Linked DNA regions of Homo sapiens: region 2 is linked to region 1. The links come from fine-mapping of genetic effects on gene expression. A gene starts in region 1. The other region holds a variant in brackets. All regions are shown on one strand. Distances are between the middles of the regions. Region 1 holds the start of PDCD4-AS1 (PDCD4 antisense RNA 1). Region 2 overlaps SHOC2 (SHOC2 leucine rich repeat scaffold protein).

Region 1 (2,911 bases):
ATACTGGCCACACCAGGAGGCCCCCGCCCAGGAGATGAGGATGACCACCAACTGCTGAGAATCTTTGTAAACTCAAATCAAGGTGTATTTATTGCACAGGCACAATAAATGAACAAGGCATCTTAAGTACTACAATGACAGGTGAGTGGGTCAGGCACAGTGGCTCACGCCTGTAATCCCAGCACTTTGGGAGGCCGAGGCAGGCAGATCCCTTGAGCTCAGGAGTTCAAGAGAAGCCTGGGCAACATGGCAAAACCCCATCTCTACTAAAAATACAAAAAACTAGCTGGGTGTGGTGGCACAGGCCTGTAGTCTCAGCTACTTGGAAAGCTGAGGTGGGAGGATGGCTTGACCCCAACAGGTTGAGGCTGCAGTGAGCCAAGATTGCACCACTGCTCTCCAGCCTGGGCAACAGGGCAAGACCCTGTCTCAAAACAACAACAACAACAAAATCACAGATGAGTAAGACACAGGTCTTTCCCTAAACAAGGTTACAGTCTAATGGGCAGAAGGGCTAGGACAGGGACTCAGATGAAATAATGCCAGGTAGAATGTGATCAGTGCCCCTGGAGGTGTGGCAAGCCAACACTGTGAGGAATCAGCGGCAGGAAGATCATATCAAATCACGAGGCTCCAGAAAAACTACGAGGGTCCAGGAATGGTGGCTCACGCTTGTAATCTCAACGCTTTGGGAGGCAGAGGTGGGCTGATTGCTTGAGCCCAGGAGTTCAAGACCAGCCTGGACAACATGATGAAACCCTGTGTGTACAGAAAATACAAAAATTAGCTGGGCATAGTGAGCTGTGCCTGTAGTCCCAGTTACTCAGGAGGCTGAGGTGAGAGGATCGTTGAGCTAGGGAGGCTGACGGAGGTCGAGGCAGCAGTGAGCTGTGATCATGCCACTGCATTCTCCTGGGCTAAAGGGCAAGCCCCTGCCTCAATTAAATAAAACAACAACAACAACAAAATAAAAAACTACCAGGAAGGGCCATGAGGCACAGAAGGATTGCATCAGGCGGAGATAGGAGATGAGAAGAGAGACATTTCAAGGTGATATATAAAGAACTACCAGGGGGTGAGGAAGCATATGGGGAGATGTGTGGAGACACAGCCTGAAAGTCTTGAAGTCACATCACGGAGCCTTGAATGACCGACCGAGGCGCTGACACTCAAGAGAGGCAATGGGAAGCCAGTGAAGGTTTGTGTGTGTGTGTGTGCGTGTGTGTGCAGAGAAATAGTAGCATTAGAGATGATTCCCAGGCAGGGTGACTGGGCAGCCAAGGGAAAGCGCTGGCCTGTGCGGGATGAGGCAGTTGGGTTCTGGAGAGCACAAGCAATCATTCGGTGCTGCCCATCAGACAACTGAAAAATCTGATCAGAGGCAGTGGCTAAGTCCCCGCCTGGGAACACAAAGGAAGCCTAAGGTTCTGGTTATCACCCTCAGGGGACCGTGACCTTGAAAGAGTAAGGATAGTACCAGCCAAAACCAATGCAGCCAAGAGGAAAAGTCACAGAGAACAGCGAGGGGAGGTGGAAGTTTCAATACAGAAATTGTAGCCATGGCTGAGAACCCCAGCACTGGAGGCCGGAATTTGTGCGTTTGAACGCCAGAGGCTTGGCTAGTCATGATTAGCAAAGGAACTTCAAAGAGTTTTGGAGCCTGCTTTATATCTGTGAAATGGGAATTATTTCCATCTCAAAGGTTTGAGGGGATTCGCTGAGAGAAACTTCTTAGCATGGGATCTCCAGAAACTGGAAGCCACAGAGAAAGCAGCGGCCAGAGGGAGGAGGAATCGGACAGGCTGATCACTTGGAGTGTTCGCCTAAGCAGTTTCTAGAAATGGAGGCAGGGACCATCAGGAAGCTCAAAACCTTTGCTTCAGCCGAGTTTGCAGAACGCCCTGTGAGGAGAATGGGTGAGCTGGGTCGAGGAAGCTTCATCCTCGTCCCCATCCCCCAGCACTGCCCTTTTCCCAACGCTCCCATCCCGCCACGCCTCCCAACATACCCCCACCCCGACTTCCCGCTCAACTCCCGCTCCAGCCAGTCCCAGGAGCCACATGCGCATGCGCCCTCCCGCGCCCCTCCCCAACTTTCCACGTTTCACTCCTCTCCCTTTTCCTCCTCAGCTCCGGCTCCGCCGCCACGATTGGCCAGCCGACCACCCGGCCTCGGCCAATAAGCGCCGCCCTCTCGCCCCCGTGTTACTGGGTAGAAGAAAACAAAAACAAACAGAGCGAGAAGGGCCAGAGACTCTCCGAGGCGGCGGCAGAGACAGAAGAGCGGGGTCGGGGCCGGCTGACCAGGAACCTGGGCGAGCAGCGGCGGGGGCCCGAGGGGTCAGTACCAGTAGGCGCGGCTCACACGCTCGGGAAGACTGCGCCCTCTCCCCCATCCCTCCTCGGAGGCAGCCGCAAGATGGGAGGGGGCGGGGGCGGAGGCGTGGGGGTCGCGGTCCTGTCAGGTCCGGGCCTGCGGTGCGGGGGTCCGGCTGCCTTCTTGTAGCCCCGCAGGTCCAGCCGCGCCCTCCCCAACGCCCCGGACTGCGGGCATCCGGCCTGGTTCCCTCTTTCTGAGCCCAGCCTGGAGCGTGTCGGCGCGGGCCCGCCCCCTCCCGGAGCCATCTCCCCACTGAGAGGGGCGCGCGAGGCGCTCGCCCTTGAAGGTCCCCCTCAGCCCTCCTCCCCCTCTGGCGGAGGTTGAATTCGGGGGCCGGGATTGGAAGGCGTGTTTCCGGCTGGACTGAAATCCTGTGAGGAAGATTCGCGCCCTCCCCGCCCCCTGCCCTCCCTGGGAATCCTCTGAAGATGCGGCCCCCTGTCCTTCGTGAACCCGGAGCCCCGGCCTCGGCCCCGGCCCAGCCCCTTCCGGGGGCCGACCCGGGCTGGGACTTCGGGGGTCCTAGCCTGAG
Region 2 (2,911 bases), 87 kb after region 1:
GAGTGGCTGGAGTCTCGGCTCACTGCAACCTCCGCCTCCCGGGTTCAAGTGATTCTCCTGCTCAGTCTCCCAAGTAGCTGGGATTACAGGTGCGCGCCAGCACACCTGGGTAATTTTTTTTGGTATTATTAGTAGAGACTGGGTTTCACCATGTTGGCCAAGCTGGTCTCAAACTCCTGACTACATTTCATACCTTAAGACCACTCTGCTTCTTTGGATATAGCTGCTTGCAATTCTGCTGCTTTGCCTAATGTCCTGTGATACTTTGCTGCTTTTTAAAAAACCTTTGTTTTTCACAGCAGTGCTCCTTGTCCTAAAATATGTTGAAATTGTGGAATAAAAAGTTTAAGACTTTTCCAGTTTGAAAACTCTTCTTACATGTTAAAAAATGATAGTCTTGTATAAAATGAATGTTTTAAATCTTACATTTATCTTGATCTGCTTGGGTTTAGATTGTCTGCCTCTGTTACCTTATATAATCATTGTGTTTTTCATGTTTATGAGAAATAAAAGAAAAAATAAATGATTGGGCCCTAGGAAAAATCCTTTTTTTTTTTAAATAACAAAGTATTCCGTTTAATGTTCCTTTTAATATATTGCCAGTGAAATATCTCGTAAGTAGCTTCTTCTTGTAAGAAAGTTAGCTATATTTGTAGCCTCTTTAATTGAAAGAAAAGGTTCTAGCTGACCTGCAGAATTAGACATCAGGGTACCTTTTCTGGTGAACCTGGAGCTTTGTTCAGAGATCAAGAAAACAAGCTCTTTATTGGGCATTTGCCCTAAGGCAACATTAACTTAATAGATATTTTCTTCCTGTAATTTGCTGATCTTTGTATTTAAGTTTGGAAATAGCAATATTCATAAATGGGTACCTTTGGTTGTAGTATTGTTCCATGCTTTCATACCATTTAAATGGTTCATCAAGATAAAATATGTTATTGTAGTCAGCAAGATTGGTTAGAATAGTGCCCTGAATATCAGTAGCTCTGTATTCTAGTTTCAGCAACTCAGTGACTCCAATATGTGCTTGAGTAAATCAGCTCATTTCTTTACTTCTCAAAGTCTTAGGACTGTTGTGATTGAAAGCTTATTGCTTTGTTTTGCCATAATTTACTATCTTTTTAGCTTTTTAATGCTCGTCTGTTATACCGACTCTTTGACTTAACATAGTTTTTTACCTGGTGTGTATAATGCCGCATGTATATGTTTGTGGATAAATGTAAATTCTCCTGCAGGAAGAACATCAGATTCTTAATCATGAAGAT[A/AC]CCCCCCCCCCAGCCCACAATTTCCAACTCACTCTTCCAGTTTCTTGATCACTCCCTTTTCCTCTAATTATCTAAGAAACTAATGGCTTATTAGGTTCACTTTTTTCTCCTTACCAGCCCAAACTGTACTGTCTGGTCCCTTATTTTTCTGCCACACTTGCCCTGTGAATCCCCTCAACTTTAAATTAATTTAGGAATACAATTTAGATTGCCAAGTACAGTTTTGGAGATTGATGCCACGACAAATTAATGATATCAAAATTTATCAGACTCAGCAATTTTATTTATCTCTGGTCTATGTCCTCATACATTCCTTTTACTTCTTTCATCAACCCCTTAGCAAACTTTGCCTTTCATGTTCTCAACAGATTAATTTGCTTCTGTTTCACCAAACAAATATGATTCTGTATGTAACTGGAGATGATAATCCCACTTAACTCTCTTATTCCTCCTCCCTTCAAACAAACTTGTCTGTAGCTGAATCCATTCTCATTTTTTAATTGAAAGGAAAAAAGATCCGTCTTCTCTAAGGCTAAGTTTTCTGCCAGTATGCTACATATTTTTGACTACTCCTTCCTTCTAAAATTTAAATAGATGAACTGGCTGCTGCTTTGACAATACCCTTTCCTAGTTTATGTGTACCTCTGTTTCTCTTTGAGGCCTTTGTCTTCCATCCATTTCTTTCTTTCTTTTTTTTTTTTTAAGACGGAGTCTTGCTCTGTTGCCAGGCTGGAGTGCAGTGGTGCGATCTTGGCTCACTGCAACCTCTGTCTCCCAGTTCAAGCGATTCTTCTGCCTCAGCCTCCTGAGTAGCTGGGACTACAGGTGTGCACCACCACGCCCAGCTAATTTTTGTATTTTTAATAGAGACGGGGTTTCACCATGTTGGCCAGGATGGTCTCAATCTCCTGACCTCCTGATCCGTCTGCCTCAGCCTCCCAAGATGCTAGGATTACAGGCGTGAGCCACTGCACTTGGCCCATCCATCCATTTCTAAATATTTATCTTCCCCAGAGTACCAGTATCATCTTCTACATGCGTTTTGTGGATAGTCTCATCTGAAACCTTTGCTGTTGACACCAAAGCTGTATCTTTATTTCTAGCCCAGACCTCCCTCCTTTATTCTAAAATCACATTTTCAAGTGTGGACTAGACTAGAATCTAAGTATAAATTTGTTCAAAATTTTACTAATTTTCTTTTTTTTTTTGTTCCCTGTCTTGAATAATCATGCTGCCTCCACCTGATTTAAGCCGGCTACTCAGACATTACCCTGAATCCCTTCCTTCTCCCTACTCCTGTTCATCCCCAACTGCTTTCTGTTTCTAGAATTATTCCTATATTTTCCTAGTACCTTTGTAGTTTAAACCAATTGTTCTCAAGTACATCAGACCTAATATCCCATTTATGCAACATTCTGTAACACTTCCTTACTCTTAAAATGATAGTAACCTACATTATTTTTAAAAATCTATGTAATTTCTTAAAGGAGATATATAAGAAAAATATTGTACATTTTATATGTTATGTAAATGCTTAGGCACAATGATATTAGAAAAAAATGAAGAATTTATTATACATTTTATGTTTCAGTATTTAAGTGTTCAGGCACAATACCAGAAAGCAATGAAGAGCAAAAGTTTGTACA

The links. PIP is the estimated chance that this variant, and not a neighbour inherited with it, causes the effect.
Region 2: its variant is fine-mapped to the expression of PDCD4-AS1 in whole blood (INTERVAL, PIP 0.99).

Annotation. Positions count from the first base shown.
Region 1 is chr10:110,869,680-110,872,590 of GRCh38, forward strand. PDCD4-AS1 (PDCD4 antisense RNA 1) reads right to left here and starts at 1,225. Exons shown (of 1, transcript NR_026932.1): 1 at 1-1,225. It overlaps PDCD4 (programmed cell death 4), which reads left to right and starts at 2,249. Exons shown (of 12, transcript NM_014456.5): 1 at 2,249-2,339. RefSeq lists an enhancer at 747-1,357 and silencers at 2,362-2,411, 2,442-2,591, 2,802-2,911.
Region 2 is chr10:110,956,267-110,959,177 of GRCh38, forward strand. The region is part of intron 1 of SHOC2 (SHOC2 leucine rich repeat scaffold protein); the gene reads left to right. Among named protein-coding and RNA genes, the nearest start is that of MIR548E, 31 kb to the right of the region's middle. The variant A/AC (reference allele first, on the strand shown) is at 1,266.